4 separate regions of the Homo sapiens genome follow, and regions 2, 3 and 4 are each reported to be linked to region 1. The links are microRNA targets in miRTarBase. Many come from high-throughput screens and were not tested one by one. Region 1 holds a microRNA gene; each other region holds the end of a gene's coding sequence. Distances are from middle to middle.

Evidence for each region. The annotated mature microRNA hsa-miR-6807-3p reads CACUGCAUUCCUGCUUGGCCCAG and lies in region 1 at 2,628-2,650, shown strand. An mRNA with a match to its seed (bases 2 to 7 or 8) in the 3' UTR can be bound and repressed. Matches are read on the target gene's strand: a 7mer-m8 pairs with bases 2 to 8, a 7mer-A1 pairs with bases 2 to 7 and ends in A, and an 8mer does both.
Region 2: miRTarBase lists OSBPL3 as a target of hsa-miR-6807-3p. Seed matches in the 3' UTR shown: 7mer-m8 at 3,891-3,897.
Region 3: the mRNA of ZNF583 is a reported target of hsa-miR-6807-3p. Seed matches in the 3' UTR shown: 7mer-A1 at 2,607-2,613 and 7mer-m8 at 1,915-1,921.
Region 4: the mRNA of SFTPB is a reported target of hsa-miR-6807-3p. Seed matches in the 3' UTR shown: 7mer-A1 at 994-1,000 and 7mer-A1 at 657-663.

What each region holds. Positions count from the first base shown.
Region 1 is chr19:58,547,727-58,551,876 of GRCh38, forward strand. It overlaps MIR6807 (microRNA 6807), which reads left to right and starts at 2,559; the gene lies at 2,559-2,650. TRIM28 (tripartite motif containing 28) reads left to right here. Exons shown (of 17, transcript NM_005762.3): 6 at 66-180; 7 at 308-454; 8 at 568-682; 9 at 760-866; 10 at 1,014-1,050; 11 at 1,136-1,184; 12 at 1,262-1,514; 13 at 1,605-1,924; 14 at 2,011-2,134; 15 at 2,223-2,309; 16 at 2,421-2,558; 17 at 2,651-2,989. The coding sequence ends at 2,827. It overlaps CHMP2A (charged multivesicular body protein 2A), which reads right to left. Exons shown (of 6, transcript NM_014453.4): 6 at 3,840-4,050. The coding sequence ends at 3,923.
Region 2 is chr7:24,796,651-24,800,650 of GRCh38, reverse strand. OSBPL3 (oxysterol binding protein like 3) reads left to right here. Exons shown (of 23, transcript NM_015550.4): 23 at 372-4,000. The coding sequence ends at 468. Among named protein-coding and RNA genes, the nearest start is that of GSDME, 41 kb to the right of the region's middle.
Region 3 is chr19:56,423,875-56,427,874 of GRCh38, reverse strand. It overlaps ZNF583 (zinc finger protein 583), which reads right to left. Exons shown (of 5, transcript NM_152478.3): 5 at 511-4,000. The coding sequence ends at 3,507. Among named protein-coding and RNA genes, the nearest start is that of ZNF583, 22 kb to the right of the region's middle.
Region 4 is chr2:85,657,831-85,661,830 of GRCh38, forward strand. It overlaps SFTPB (surfactant protein B), which reads right to left. Exons shown (of 11, transcript NM_000542.5): 10 at 3,624-3,705; 11 at 1-1,852. The coding sequence ends at 3,643. Among named protein-coding and RNA genes, the nearest start is that of SFTPB, 8.4 kb to the right of the region's middle.

The DNA of each region.
Region 1 (4,150 bases):
CTGGGGCTGTGGGGGTGGCCCAGGGCAGCAAGACCCTACCTAGCCTGACCTGCTGTGTCCCCTAGAATCCGCCAGGTGTCTGACGTACAGAAGCGTGTGCAAGTGGATGTCAAGATGGCCATCCTGCAGATCATGAAGGAGCTGAATAAGCGGGGCCGTGTGCTGGTCAATGATGCCCAGGTAAGCCTTGTGCCGGTGAGAAGGGTCCCTGAGCCCCCTCTGCTGATTGATGATGCTGTCTGGGGTGAGGAGTGATCCTAGTATTCTTCTGCCTTCTCTGCTTACCTCATACACCTTCTATCTGCAGAAGGTGACTGAGGGGCAGCAGGAGCGCCTGGAGCGGCAGCACTGGACCATGACCAAGATCCAGAAGCACCAGGAGCACATTCTGCGCTTTGCCTCTTGGGCTCTGGAGAGTGACAACAACACAGCCCTTTTGCTTTCTAAGAAGTTGGTGTGTACTGGTGGGCTCCTGGCTGGTGGGTTCCAGGCAGGTGGTTCCCAATACCTCAAATCCCTATTTGTTGTTGGTGTGCTCATTCTTTCCTCCCTTTCACTCCCAACCAGATCTACTTCCAGCTGCACCGGGCCCTCAAGATGATTGTGGATCCCGTGGAGCCACATGGCGAGATGAAGTTTCAGTGGGACCTCAATGCCTGGACCAAGAGTGCCGAGGCCTTTGGTGGGTCCCCAGCTTTACCTCACTCTGTTATTACCCCACGTGCTGCACCTACTTACGTTTCTCTCTTCTTTTTGCAGGCAAGATTGTGGCAGAGCGTCCTGGCACTAACTCAACAGGCCCTGCACCCATGGCCCCTCCAAGAGCCCCAGGGCCCCTGAGCAAGCAGGGCTCTGGCAGCAGCCAGGTGAGCAGGAGAGAGGACCCAGGAAGGGGTGGGCAGGGAATGGGGTCCAGTAGCAGGAGAGAGGACCCAGGCAGGGGGGGTGGGCAGGGAATGGGGTCCAGTAGGGTTCCTGTCCCACTGAGGCAGAGGGTTCTGCTTTGTTCACAGCCCATGGAGGTGCAGGAAGGCTATGGCTTTGGGTCAGGTGAGTGGGTCTGCCTAGTGGGTGGGGAAGGGCCCCAGTGCTGTTTCTACCCCAACCTGCCAGTCTTCTTTCTCCATTTTCTAAGGAGATGATCCCTACTCAAGTGCAGAGCCCCATGTGTCAGGTGTGAAACGGTAAGTATGGCACCTCCCCTGGGGGTGAGGTGGATGGAGGGTGGGGGTGTACTCATGCCAGGTTGCTGCATCTACAGGTCCCGCTCAGGTGAGGGCGAGGTGAGCGGCCTTATGCGCAAGGTGCCACGAGTGAGCCTTGAACGCCTGGACCTGGACCTCACAGCTGACAGCCAGCCACCCGTCTTCAAGGTCTTCCCAGGCAGTACCACTGAGGACTACAACCTTATTGTTATTGAACGTGGCGCTGCCGCTGCAGCTACCGGCCAGCCAGGGACTGCGCCTGCAGGAACCCCTGGTGCCCCACCCCTGGCTGGCATGGCCATTGTCAAGGTAAGCCTGTCCCAAGGAACTATAGCTGTAGGATGAAGCCTGTAGTCCAGGTCTGGACCCTGTTGAACACCCCTCATCACCACCTTGCAGGAGGAGGAGACGGAGGCTGCCATTGGAGCCCCTCCTACTGCCACTGAGGGCCCTGAGACCAAACCTGTGCTTATGGCTCTTGCGGAGGGTCCTGGTGCTGAGGGTCCCCGCCTGGCCTCACCTAGTGGCAGCACCAGCTCAGGGCTGGAGGTGGTGGCTCCTGAGGGTACCTCAGCCCCAGGTGGTGGCCCGGGAACCCTGGATGACAGTGCCACCATTTGCCGTGTCTGCCAGAAGCCAGGCGATCTGGTTATGTGCAACCAGTGTGAGTTTTGTTTCCACCTGGACTGTCACCTGCCGGCCCTGCAGGATGTACCAGGGTGAGTGTGAGGCTGGTGGGGGTCAAGTCTGGGTGTTGGGCTGTCTGGACAGGATCATGTGCAGACCCTTATTTTCTTCACCCTAGGGAGGAGTGGAGCTGCTCACTCTGCCATGTGCTCCCTGACCTGAAGGAGGAGGATGGCAGCCTCAGCCTGGATGGTGCAGACAGCACTGGCGTGGTGGCCAAGCTCTCACCAGCCAACCAGCGGGTGAGGGCTGGGGTTACTTAGGTGGGGTTGCCCAGAGAGGCTTTATAGGTGCTGCCCAGAGCTGTGACATCCCTTACAATGTTTGTAGAAATGTGAGCGTGTACTGCTGGCCCTATTCTGTCACGAACCCTGCCGCCCCCTGCATCAGCTGGCTACCGACTCCACCTTCTCCCTGGTGAGTCCTAGGATGGGAAAGGGGAAGGGGGTGGTGGCTGCTGGGTCTCGCCCTCAACCTGTGCATGTATATGTGTGTCTTTGTGTGTGTATGTGTGATCTCTGCCTGCAGGACCAGCCCGGTGGCACCCTGGATCTGACCCTGATCCGTGCCCGCCTCCAGGAGAAGTTGTCACCTCCCTACAGCTCCCCACAGGAGTTTGCCCAGGATGTGGGCCGCATGTTCAAGCAATTCAACAAGTTAACTGAGGTGAGCCAGTGGAATGGAGAGGCTGTGGGCAGGGGGAGATGTGAAGGAAAGAACTAGGACCCATTCATCCACTGCATTCCTGCTTGGCCCAGGACAAGGCAGACGTGCAGTCCATCATCGGCCTGCAGCGCTTCTTCGAGACGCGCATGAACGAGGCCTTCGGTGACACCAAGTTCTCTGCTGTGCTGGTGGAGCCCCCGCCGATGAGCCTGCCTGGTGCTGGCCTGAGTTCCCAGGAGCTGTCTGGTGGCCCTGGTGATGGCCCCTGAGGCTGGAGCCCCCATGGCCAGCCCAGCCTGGCTCTGTTCTCTGTCCTGTCACCCCATCCCCACTCCCCTGGTGGCCTGACTCCCACTCCCTGGTGGCCCCATCCCCCAGTTCCTCACGATATGGTTTTTACTTCTGTGGATTTAATAAAAACTTCACCAGTTCCTCAGGCGTTGGCTGGTTGGGGGACTGTGGTCCTGGGGCCTGGTTTATTGACTGTATCTACTAGTCAGCCTTATCAAGCACTGGTGGCACAAGGGAGGGGGGTCTTGTCCCCCACCTATCGAAGCCCATGTGTATGGATGCCTAGGGAGTGGGGAAGACTGCCTCCTTGCCCTTTCTGGGTATGGGGAGGGTCACCCAGGGCAAAGGATGTACACACTAGAGGCTTGTTGGGTACCCTGTGGGATACTGGGTAGGTGTGACCTACATCCCTGTGTAGGCAGGGTTAGCCCCAGGTGTAGCACAGCCACTCTACTGAATGCTTCCTAAATTTTGGTGCTGTAGCTGTTTCTCATCTTCAGAAGGTCCCACAGTGAACTGAGACCTTCCAGATGTGGTTTTTTTCCCTGTCTCCCTTTGCTGAGTCCACTTAACATTATCATTCATCTCTGTGTTATGATTTAGTTACTCTACAGTCGAGCCTGTGTGAATCCCAAGGCCACCCCCTTGCCTCTATTGGTTGGTCTGGACTGTCCTTGAGTGTTGTCATTAAACCATCACTGGACCAAACAGTGTTGGACACTACAGCCTGGCAGATGAGGCCTGGACTCTCAAGATCCTACCAGGGTGTTTGGGCAGTCCAGTATCTTGGGAGAGGTGATGGAGAAGGGCCCACAGCTCACCTGAAGCTCCCAGCTCCTGAAAATCCCAGGTGGACTTTGCTTGTTCACCCCTGCCCCAAACCCCCACCCTTAGCTTAGTACCAAGTGCCTCTTGCCTTAGTGATGCCCATCCTCCCAGGGACCCCAGTCTGGTCCCACATCAGGCCAAAAGTCACATGGGCCTGGAGACTAGTGTCAAATCTCTTTTATTACAGAGGGGTTGTGGTAAAAGATCCTGGGCATCCACTGGTTATCTCGGAGTGGCAGGGGCACTCAGTCCCTCCGCAGGTTCTTAAGCCGTTCCTCCAGGTCTGCATCAGCATCAGCTAGGGCTGAGGCTGCGGCCTCTGCTTTTTTCCCACCAGCAGCCACACTAAGCGAGCCCCCAGTTGAGGGGAGGTCTGCAGAGAAAGTGGGGGTTTGAGCAGGTGGGGTCAGGCAGCGGAGGGGAGTAATGCAGGGAAAGGGAGGGCTTGGAGCTGTGGCTGGGCCTTGGGTGGG
Region 2 (4,000 bases), not on the chromosome of region 1:
ACCCCGTCTCTACTAAAAATACAAAAATTAGTCGGGCATGGTTGCACATGGCTGTAGTCCCAGCTACTCGGGAGGCTGAGGCAGGAGAATCGATTGAACCTGGGAAGCAGAGGTTGCAGTGAGCCAAGATCATGCCACTACACTCCAGCCTGGATGACAGAGCGAGCCTCCATCTCAAAAAAAAAAAAAAAAAAAAAGTAACAAAATTATTTCTGGACATCTAATTCCCAGAATTCCCGGTCCCAACACTCTGGGACGCTGAATGCATGTGGGAATGAGGATGGGGAAAGCAGGGAGGTTAGGAAGGAAAGAGACTTGAGAATGTGACGCTGGTTTCAAGAGTCTGCAAGAAATTGTTTCTTCTTTCACAGGAAATCCGACGATGACTCTTGGGTGAGCAACGGCACCTATTTGGAACTTAGAAAAGATCTTGGTTTTTCCAAACTGGACCATCCTGTCTTATGGTGAAAAAGTAAAGAAGAAAGATAACATTAGTGTATTTCTCCTGTGCTTGCCTTCTGAAGTGGCACAAACCTGTGTTTATATATTTAAAAGATACTCTAGGATGATCACTTGTGCTTAGCTTAGCATTGTAACTCTTTAAGTCTATATTTTCCTCAGTGCGTTTCTTTACAATTTCAAATGTTACCCTGATTGTTTATATGAATGTAGAACACCTTGACATTTCTTTTTATATATAAACTATTTAATAAAAATGAAAGATTGAATGTTCATGTGTGGGTTAAAAAAAGAAGCTTTAACACTAATTTTCCAAAGGTTAGGGAAGATTCCAATTAAATTTATGCCTTATAAAATTATGTTGTAGAAAAAAAATCAACCTCTCCCAGGTGCATTAAGAAATAAGAATTCCCAGGGTTACTCACCCATGCGTAAGCTACCCAAGTTTAATTTGGTAGCTGAAATATCTTTTTGCCTCAGACAGCTCTTGAATTGCTCATACAGAACAATTCTGCTGGTGCTGGAGTCTGAAGAATATTTTCATTTGCATTTTAGTGGTTAGGGAGAGGATATAAGATTAATGGAATGTATATTTTTATATAAGACGTATACGGCACCTTCTTGAAAAGGAAGCATTTGAACTTGTTCCTCCCTATAGTTCTATTGCCTTATATGCAAAATTGTACCCTGTTGCTCAGAGAAATTATTCATAAGAGAAAAGAATTCCAATTAATTAAATATCACAATAGCATCCCAGAGAGACAGTAGGAAATTTCTCCTTAGTGAGAGCTGAGTCCTTGAGAAGTTAAGAGACTGTTTCCTGCTTCCCACCCCACCCCGTTTTTTGTCCCTCCGTTTGATCACCTCCCTGTTGAGTATGGAATGTCCCAGTTTAATATAAAACATACAGTTTATTCCACACAGCAGTTTGACTTTGTAAAAGTTTAGCAAAATAACTGATTGTTTTGGATAACTCAACATGTTTTTCTTAAATGCTGTTTTAGTATTTTCTACCTCTTAATAAGCACCATATTTTAGATCTTGTATAAAAAGTTGCCATCTGCCTTATAGACAAATGTAGAGAATTGATGTTCTTGCTTTGTGTTGTGTTCTGGTAAAGCTTTAAGTGAGTGTCTTACCCCTTTCCTATACTTTCTTGTTATCCATATCATTCTTTTGTGAGTTTTGCAGCAGTCTTGAATAATACAGATTATAACTACTGAAAGGGGAACCTTCGTCTTTTTAAATGTGTTATTTCACATTACAATAATATGTGTAGTAGTTGAATTGTGTTATCAAAGCATGTCCAACTTCTGTCCAGATGACATTAAAACCAAAGCCTAATTGTTAAGCCTCTTATTCTAAAGTCCATAGCAATGCTATGGAATATCAAGTATAATGATGTAGTAAAAAGATTTCTCCAGAAAACACTTTGAGATACTTAAAGAAATTCAGAGCATATCGAATGTTATGAATGAAGAGTAAAATAATTACAGGAAAAGAATGCATGATTTTTCATTGTCACACCAAATAACCAGTTGGACAATATTGCATTTTCAAAATGGAGAGTTATTTAAAGTGGATGTGTAGCCTTCTGGAATCTGCACGTGACTGGCATTTTAAAACAACTCATTAAATATTGGATTCATTTTATCGAGATGCCAAGATGAACACAATGTGAATATCATTTCCATTTCTAAGCAGTTGAATGACACAGTCAGATTCTTTGGTGTATGCTTTGTTCTTTCCATCTCAAGCATTTATCCAAATTCTGCTCACAGACATGAGGAAGCAGGCTGTAGATTTAAGGGCACTCAAGGGGAAAACAAATGTAGTTTCCACAGTGTGAGGATAAATGTAGAATCGTGGTAATATTGGCTGTTAAATTGGCCTGCTCCAGAGACTGGCTCAAAAAAGAAAGAAGCAACGAAAACAAAATGCACAGCCTGAATGGACGTAGCACTGTCATGTGGCATTTGGAAAATCTTTAATTATCCTAATGTTATTTCACTTGCCCTTATGCTTTATTTTAGAGTCCCAGGGACAACTGGATGAAACATTACGTCTGTAGTCATCTTATTTGAGATGGGGGTGGGAACGAATTAAAATATGATAGAGAACTATATGCAGATTTTAAAATCTAGTCAGTACTAGCATCTATAAAGGGCTTTTCTGAAATTTAAACAGCTTGGTGATGCATCCTGATATTATAAGCTTAAAACTATCTTGAGGGGGAAATGACTTCTTTTCTCCTTCTGTCCCTTTTCTCAAAAGCATCTTTCCCCCAAATGTATGTCTCTAGGACATTTTATAGTTTTAAGAGGAAGAAAACAGAAACGTGGCATCATTTGGGAAGAACCAAGGTAGAATTTAATTTTCTGGACTTTAAATCTCCTGGTTAAATAATGCTAATCACTGTACCATTTGAGTTACATGTTTTAACCTCTTTTTTTTTTCTAATTATTCCATCCAAAATTTCTGGTGAATTACACAGAAATTTTTGGAAATGGGACTTTGTGCAGGTAACCACCCTGCACTTCAGGTAATGTTCCTGTCACAGCTGTCGACTACCCCACGCTGCAGGAAATCCATTCAGAAATGAGCTAACAGTCTCCAGTGTAGCAGGAGAGCCAGTCACTTCCCTCCCCAGGCCCCAAAGCACCCCAAGGCTGGTATTCCTTGAGTCATAGGTATTAATAATAAAAGCCTCAATGCAGCTTCTCCATGTAGTTCCTCTCCTACAAGCCAGGTGGATTCTGGTCCTAACTAAAGAGATGGGAGTTCACCTGAGGGCAAGAAGTACCCAGGATGCCCAAACAGCCGCACAGGTGTCCTGTGCTTCCTGTGAGACTTCCTGGGGGAAATATACAAACTAATATATTTTTTAATGTTTACGTCATTTACACTGCTGCTTTTCTCATATTCTGCTTTTAATTACTTGTAGTAAATCATTTGTTTGGGCTTCAAGCACTGTCTTCCATCTGCATCTTCCAGATTTATCATGAGTGATCTTGTTCTACTGTTAAAGATGTCAAGCCTAAAAAGTAATAAAGTTTTTATTTGGCTGTTGAACCTTGATGTAGCCCCTACTACATACACTACAAGTTATGCCTTCTGGCTACTACAGAATCTCCGCAGACCTTTTAGTTATGAGTAGAAGCAATAAGAAGGTGTCCTTATGGTCTTAGGAATAATAGTTCCAATGTATTGGCATAATTTGTTTGAATGTCTTTATTTTGATATTAACACCGGCATAAATCTATTTTTGCTACCAGATGATAGCTATTTTCATTTGCTCTATTTTCCTCTGCATTGTACTAATCTGTTACTCAGTGTTAGTCTTCATTTTTCTGTGTTGGAAACCTGCGTCATGTAAATATCTGCAAATCATGACAGTCTAAAGTGCAAACCATTTTCAGAGACTTTGGGGAATGCAGTGATCAGAAGTGGCTAATTTATTTTATTTCTGATTATTTTATCCAGAGGGTACTTTTTTAATGGATATTTGTAAATCTTCCACTTAACCACTGAAAATTATTTT
Region 3 (4,000 bases), 2.1 Mb from region 1:
CAGGGTTTCACCATGTTGATCAGGCTGGTCTCTAACTCCTGAGGTCAGGTGATCCACCCGCCTCGGCCTCCCAACGTGCTAGGATTACAGGCGTGAGCCACCATGCCTGGCCAAAAGCACAATAATTTTTTTTTTTTTTTGAGACAGAGTCTCACTCTATCGCCCAGGCTGGAGTGCAGTGGCATGATCTTGGCTCACTGCAACCTCTGCCACATGGTTCAAGTGATTCTCCTGCCTCAGCCTCTCAAGTAGCTGGGATCACAGATGCCTGCCACCACACCCAGCTAATTTTTTGTATTTTTAGTAGAGATGGGGTTTCACCATCTTGGCCAGGCTGGTTTTGAACTCATGACCTCATGATCCACCTGCCTCAGTCTCCCGAAGTGCTGGGATTACAGGTGTGAACCACCGCACCCAGCCAAAGCACACTATTTTTTGACACAGTCAATTTTATCAATCTTTTCCTTTATGGTATTTGAATATTTTAGAAACACGTGTCTGACACCAAAGTCGTTAACATATCCCACTATATTTTTTCTAATACTTTTGCTTTAGTAATTTACATTTAGATTTTTATTCAGTTAGAACTTATACTTGTTAATGGTGTGAAATAAGGATCCCATTCAATTTACTTATACAAGAGAGGGGAGAGTGAGGAGGCTTTTGGCAAGGGCTACTGACATAACTTTCACATACAAAGGCTTCAAGAGGCTTTTCATCATGTCTTCTTAGAAGCCACAGCCTGTACATAAGCCAACTCCAAGCCTGAACTTCTCTAGGGATCCTTTGGGCAGACTAGATTCCATTTTTAAAACCCTTCGGTCATTCGCATATAACATGCAGCATCTTCTGCTACAATTCATGAACACTCTTCCCTGTTTTGCCTTTTACAAAATTATTTCATCCACTCAAAAGCCTCACCTTTTTTTTTTTTTTAAGAATCATTTACATTGTTCTATGTGTATAATAGAATCTGGAGGGAAAGACATTGTGTGCCGAGTTTTTGAACTTCAAAATAAAATTCTACTTTTCCCAATTAAAATTCTGAAGTTGACAAATTGCCTACCAGAGTTTGTACAAACTCATGCTCTTTTAAATTAGTGCATAGTATCTCTTTTTGTATGCTTTCAATGCAGTTTTATTAATCTGATATTGAAAAAAATAGTATTTCATTGGCCTAAACTGTATTTCTTCTGATCCTAGGGAGATTTAGTACTTACCACATATTTATTGGTCACCTGTTGCCTCTTCATATCCTTTGACTATGAGCTGGAGAAAAGCGTCATTTCCTAAGGGATTTTTATGAGCAATTTTATGTTAAGGATATGAATTCCATAGTTTATATGTGCTGCAATAATTTTCTCCCATTCTTAGGTTTAAAAAATATTGTATCTTTTACTATCTTTGATCATATAAAAGCTTTATAAAGTTCTTATACAGTCAAATCTATGACTTGTTGACAGGAGGTGGGGAGGCTTCTGAATCTCATGTTTAGGAAGGCCAGTCTCATTCCATGATTAGAGTGTGTCACAGACTCCTCTAATCACTGTTTGTTCCACATTTAGATAAAGCACTTGAAAGTAACTTTCACATATGGAATGAATTGTTGTATAGAGCACGATAAATTTTTCCAAAACTGTTAAACCACTGATGGTATAGGTCACTTTTGTTATAATTTTCTTTATATGTGTAACAGCATGAATATGTATGTTCACACATACATGTTAAAACCTTACAAAATTTATTAGAATTTTGTTAGGTAGAATCTGTAAATTAATTCATGGGCTACTGACATCAGTATGATAGTGAATCTGTCTTACCATATAAAGGATAAAATATTTATTTGTCTTCTTTTTCATCCTCCATTAAACTTTCGTCATTCTGTTTGTATCTATAGTCACATGTGAATTGATCACTGCATTGATTATATGCCAAAAGAATTCTGGGGTCAGGAAGTAATATTAAAAGAGGTCAGATGTAAAGAATCAGGGAGTGGTTTGAATGTTGGAGAAAGGGAAAACACATGGTCTGCTGAAGGTATTCATATGTATTTTAAACTTAATGCATACAGAATCAAACATGTTTGTGGGCCAGTTTATGAGAACTGACCTACAGTTTTGGTTTCTTTTCTTCACTAGTTTTGAAATTTTAGTAATTTAACAACCTTTATTATTTTAAATGACATAGATTTGATATAATTCATTCACCCAGATTTAGAACAGGGGTTCAAACTTATACTTTATTTTCTACTCATCATTGGTTACTGACTTGTTTCAAGATTTCTTTTTAATTTCGATTTTGCCTTTGTTTACATGTAAATGATGAATACATCTCAGTAAACTGTCTTATTAAAAATGACTTTTTAGGCCAGGCACGGTAGCTCACGCATGTAATCCCAGCACTTTGGGAGGCCAAGGCAGGCGGATCACCGGACGTCAGGAGTTAGAGAAAAGCCTGGCCGACATGTCAAAACCCTCTCTCTACTAAAAATACAAAAATTAGCTGGGCGTGGTGGTGCAGGCCTGTAATCCCAGCTACTCAGGAGGCTGAGGCAGGAGAATCACTTGAACACAGGAGGCGGAGGTTGCAGTGAGCCAAGATTGCACTACTGCACTCAAGCCTGAGCAACAGAGCAAGACTCCATCTCAAAAAAAAAGACTTTTAAAATAAGACATTAGCATCTTAGAACTGTTAAATATCCAGTGAATGCTGATACAAGCCACCATCTTACCCTATATCATGGACTCTAATGTAAATCCTACTGTTAGATACCCTCCTCACCTACTTTTAGAAAAATGCCTACCATTCCTAAAAAAAAAAAAACTTCACAATCTCTCAGTCCTGAGCTGCTGCATCTCTTTTTATTTCTGAGATAATCATGGCTGAGATGATTGGCTTTCTATGTATAGTATGGTTATCTTTTTACTTTACATTATGGTTTGAGTAATTACTTTATGCTAGGCACGCTGCTGAGCAATTTACATGCATTATTTCATTCTTCTATTAACTTCTGAGGTAGAACCATTATTATTCCCACACTATAAATAAGACTGAAGCTTACAAAGCACAAACTGCTGCCCCCAAATTAGAGGGCAGGAAATGGAAGTGCAAAGATTGGAACCCAGGTCTTTTTGATCCTGGAATATGTATCTTAATCCTGGATAAGTATTCAGAGAATGAGATGGATAGTGACACAAGATAGAAACTTTGGAAGGTAACCTGGAACAAGGTGTTAGAGGCTAGGTTTTTAGGCTATTTTGAAGAATGTGTGCTTTAACTTAAAAACCATGGGATGCCACTGAGGGATTTTAATGAGGGAGAAATGAGATTAAACATATTTTTAAAAATACAAATTTGGTTGCAATGTGGACATCTGACAGAGACAATGGTGAGTACAAGGAGACCAATTAGAAAGCTACTCGAGTATCCCATGTCAAATATATTAATGTGCATTGGACAAGGATGATGGGATGGAAATGGATTCAAGAGGTGGATTCCAGAAATATTCAGGAGATGAAACCTACAGGTCTTGGCAACTGATTTGATGTGGAGGGTGAGGGAGAGGAAAGAGTCAAGAATGACTCCATAGTATGAATTCTCTCATGATGAGCAAGATGTGCACGCTGCCTGAAAGATTTCCTGCAATCTTTACATTCATAGGGTCTTTCTCCAGTATGAATTCTCTGATGTAGAGTAAGAGATCCACTATAGCTAAATGCTTTCCCACAAACATTACATTCATAAGGTTTCTCTCCAGTATGAATTCTCTGATGTTGAGCAAGGCCTGCATTCTGGCTAAATGTTTTCCTACATTCCTTACACATATAGGGTTTTTCTCCAGTATGACTTCTCTGATGTTGTGCAAGTGATGAACTATTGCTAAAGGCCTTCCCACATTCAATACATTCATAGGGTTTCTCTCCAGTATGAACCCTCTGATGTTGATCAAGGTATGCAATTTGGCTGAAGGCTTTCCTACATACTTTACATTCATAAGGTT
Region 4 (4,000 bases), not on the chromosome of region 1:
CTTACAAAGCACATTCTCAATGGCGGAGAGAATATTACAAAATACCTTCTTAAGGGTGCGGGGGTGCGGGCGTGGGGTGGGTGGGGAGAATATTACAAAGCACCTTCTCAAGGGTGGGGAAGGTGTATTGTCACAAGGTCAATTGATCAGTTAGGGTGGGGCAGGAACAAATCACAATGGTGGAATGTCATCAGTTAAGGCAGGAACTGGCTATTTTCACTTCTTTTGTGGATCTTCAGTTGCTTCAGGCCATCTGGGTGTATACGTGCAGGGCACAGGGGATATGATGGCTTAGCTTGGGCTCAGAGGCCTGACAGTGGGTAATTTCCACTCTCTTTGTCTGTAGTTTCTGAATTTCTTACAAGAAACATGTATAAGAAATATGACAAAAGTTATTTTATAAATAAAGGGACACTTCCAGGCATTTCAGTCTTTAAGAAAAGCTAAGGCTTGTTTGGCTTTTTGTTTATTTTTAGGTTTTTGGTGTCCTCATGACCTAACCTCATCCCAGTGAGTAGAGACTGGGAGGGGAGAGCAGCAGCTGGAGGGCAGGCTGGGAGCGCTTGTGAGGGAGAGGAGCTATGGACGTCTGCTTCTCTGCCAAGGGAGAGAGTGAGGTAGGCCTGGGCCCGCTGACTTCAGGGTGAGGCCACAGCTACTGCAGCGCTTTTTATTTATTTATTTATTTACTGAGATGGAGTCTTGCTCTGTCACCCAGGCTGGAGTGCAGTGGTGCAATCTCGGCTCACTGCAACCTCTGCCTCCTGGGCTGCAGTGATTCTCCTGCGTTCAAGTAATTCTCCTGCCTCGGCCTTCTGAGTAGTTGGGATTACAGGCATATGCCACCACACTTGGCTAATTTTTTGTATTTTTAGTAGAAATGGGGTTTCACCATGTTGGCGAGGCTGGTCTCGAACTCCTGACCTCAAGGATCCTCCTGCCTCGGCCTCCTAAGGTGCTGGGATTGCAGGTGTGAGCCACCACGTCTGGCCATACTGCAGCACTTTAAAGGACGGTGTCTTTTTCTTTCTCATAAAAGAGAATAGGACTTTATTAGCATTGGTGCAGACATTGTATTACACAGGAATGGGTCCCTAGCTTGCACAACCCCAGCTGAGCTTTCAGCAGATAAATCACAGCAGAAATAGAATCACCCTAGGACTTTCAATCAAAAGCTGGAAGTCCACCTTACAGAAAGACAAAAAGAAACCCCTTTTTATATCTTAACAAAGCAATAGCTCTCAAGCAGCAGAGCATCTCGAGGAAGAAAGCTTGCCCGGTCGCCATCCCATCATGCCAGAGCGTGCAGTGTCCACCCTTGACTACGCTGGGGAATTGCTGATTTTTTGAAAAAGCTTAACTTAACAATTTCTGATGTCTATCTTTTAGAGTTCTGTATGTTCCCATTTTTTATTCTTCTGAATTTTGAATTGCAAGTAGCTGTAAAATCCAATCTTTGAGTGCATGGGGGTGGGTGTGAGGCGGGGCTCAGCTTCAACCCCCTGTCCTGTAAAGCAGTGGCTGGTTTTTCCTGAGCCCAGCCCTGGGAGGTCGTGGTAGGTGTGGAGGCTGCAGAGCTCCTCCAGATGCTGCCCTCGCTGTGCCTCACACCAGAGAGGATGGAAGTGGGCTCTGGTGTCAGACTGTGGTTGAGCTGAGACAGACAAGGCCGACACAGGGCTGGGGGCCCGTGGTCCACCAGTGGAAGTGACTGCCGAGGAAGGGCGGTGAGGAGGGCGGTGTGGGAGCTGAGGCTTCTTTTCAGCCTGGCAGCTGGCGAGGGCCAGGGAGCAGGGGAAGAGCCTGGTCACCATGGTCCCAGAGCCCGTCTCACTTGGCTTTTCCTTTGCAGCTGAGGAGGATGAGGGCCAGAGAGGGACTGTGTGTATGTCCTGCCTGGGGACCCACAGCCAGGTGATAGCAGAGGTGGTTTGAAGCCCAGGCCTCCCACGCCAACCCACTGGTCTTGCTGTTTCAGCAGGGAAGGCCGGGAGCCCTAGGAGCTGGGGAAAGGCGACTGCCCGGGTCCTGGGTGACTCCCCACCCCCAGATCCCCAGCTGTCATCACTGGGGCAAGGACACATTAAACTGGTCCCTGTGGGTCAGGTCTGAGTGGGGGAGGACCTCCCCTCCCCACTGCCTCCCACAGGGGCTTGTGATGCAGGGTTTCAGGAACAGGGCTGGCTTCCCCGCCTCAGATGGAAGAAGTGGACTTGGCTGTGAGCTCCAGGAGGGCAGGGCTCAGCCATAGCCCCTACCCTAGGATGTGGCCTGGCCACAGGCACCCACTACTTTTTTTTTTTTTTTTTTGAGACGGAGTCTCACTCTGTCACCCAGGCTGGAGTGCAGAGGCGCAATCTTGGCTCGCTGCAATCTCCGCCTCCCAGGTTCAAGCAATTCTCCTCCTCAGCCTCCCAAGTAGCTGGGATTACAGGTGTGTGCCACCACATCTGGCTAATTTTTTTTTTTTTTTTTTTTTTTTTTAGTAGATACGGGGTTTCATCATGTTGGTAAGGCTGGTCTTGAACTCCTGACCTCAAGTGATCCACTCGCCTCGGTCTCCCAAAGTGCTGGGATTACAGGTGTGAGCCACTGCGCCCAGCAAAGAAATACCTTTTTTTTTTTTTTTTTTTTCCTGAGACAGAGTTGTGCTCTGTTGCCTAGGCTAGAGTGCAGTGGCACGATCTCGGCACACCGCAACCTTCGCCTCCCAGGTTCAAGTGATTCTCCTGCCTAAGCGTCCTGAGTAGCTGGGATTACAGGCACCTGCCACCATGCTCAGCTAATTTTTAAAAAATATTTTTAGTAGAGACAGGGTTTCGCCATGTTGGCCAGGCTAGTCTCGAACTCCTGACCTCAGGTGATCTGCCTGCCTCGGCCTCCCAAAGTGCTGGGATTACCGGCGTGAGCCACCATGCCTGGCCTTACATTTTTTAAAATGAGGGAACAAATGAATAAATGACCACCATGTTAGGGGCTGGCTCTGAACAGAATTGTAAAGTGGGCCAAGCTTGCTCTCAAGGTCACCTTAAGCCCACGGTTGCTGTGTCCTGCCCTCTCAGGGTCATTTCCCAGCCTCCAGGCACCTGTTCACAGAGGCTGCATCTGGCCTCGCCTCCACCCCTCCATCCTAAGGTGCTCCGCTGACTTAGAACAGGACAGTCAGGGAGAGAATGTGTCTCAGGAGGGTGGAGTCAGATGATCACGGCCTTCCTGGCATCTGAGGGGATACAGCTTCGGGTAGCAAAGTGTGATTTTCCCTGAGCCCCAGGAAAGCTTGGCCTTGGTCAGAATACATTGAACCCTGAGGGCCAGAGAGTCCCTGGGGCAAGCTCTGAGAGGGAGGCCTGGGACAGGGCAGGGCGGGGGGTTGGGGGGGAAGCTGGGGGTTGGGCACTCAGTGACTGGGGTTCTGGGCGGGGCAGTGCTCGGGGTCCGGAAAGGGTGTTTTCCTGATGGCCAGCCAGAAGCCCTCAGGAGCCTCCAGCTGTGCGGTGAGAGGGAGGATGGAGCAGCCGGCAGGAGTGGCCGCCTCTTCCTGCTTGGGGAGCAGAAGGGCCTCCCATGCCCTGATGGTCAGGACCTGCCCCCTTACCTCCCCGCAACTGGGGGCCTGGACTCACCTGGACAGCTGAGTTCTCATCAAAGGTCGGGGCTGTGGATACACTGGAGAGGGCTGGACATGGTCCCACACACCCCGAGGGCCTGTCACAGGGACAGCACCAGGGCTGAGGCCTGGGCCCCCTCAGCTCCCCACACCCAGCTCTTCCGGGAAAGAACAGCACTCACTCCACCTCCCGCCTAGTGGGTGCTACCAGTGTGACTCTGTAGACCCCTCGGGCCACTCCCTGAGCCACAGGCCTTAGGGTTTAGAGCCTGAGGAGGTGAGATGTTCACTCCAGAACACCCACTTTGTACCCCCACCCCACCAGCACACACTGGCCAGGGAACACAGCCCCATCCTATAATGGACATCCAGCCGCACTCCTCAGGCCATCCC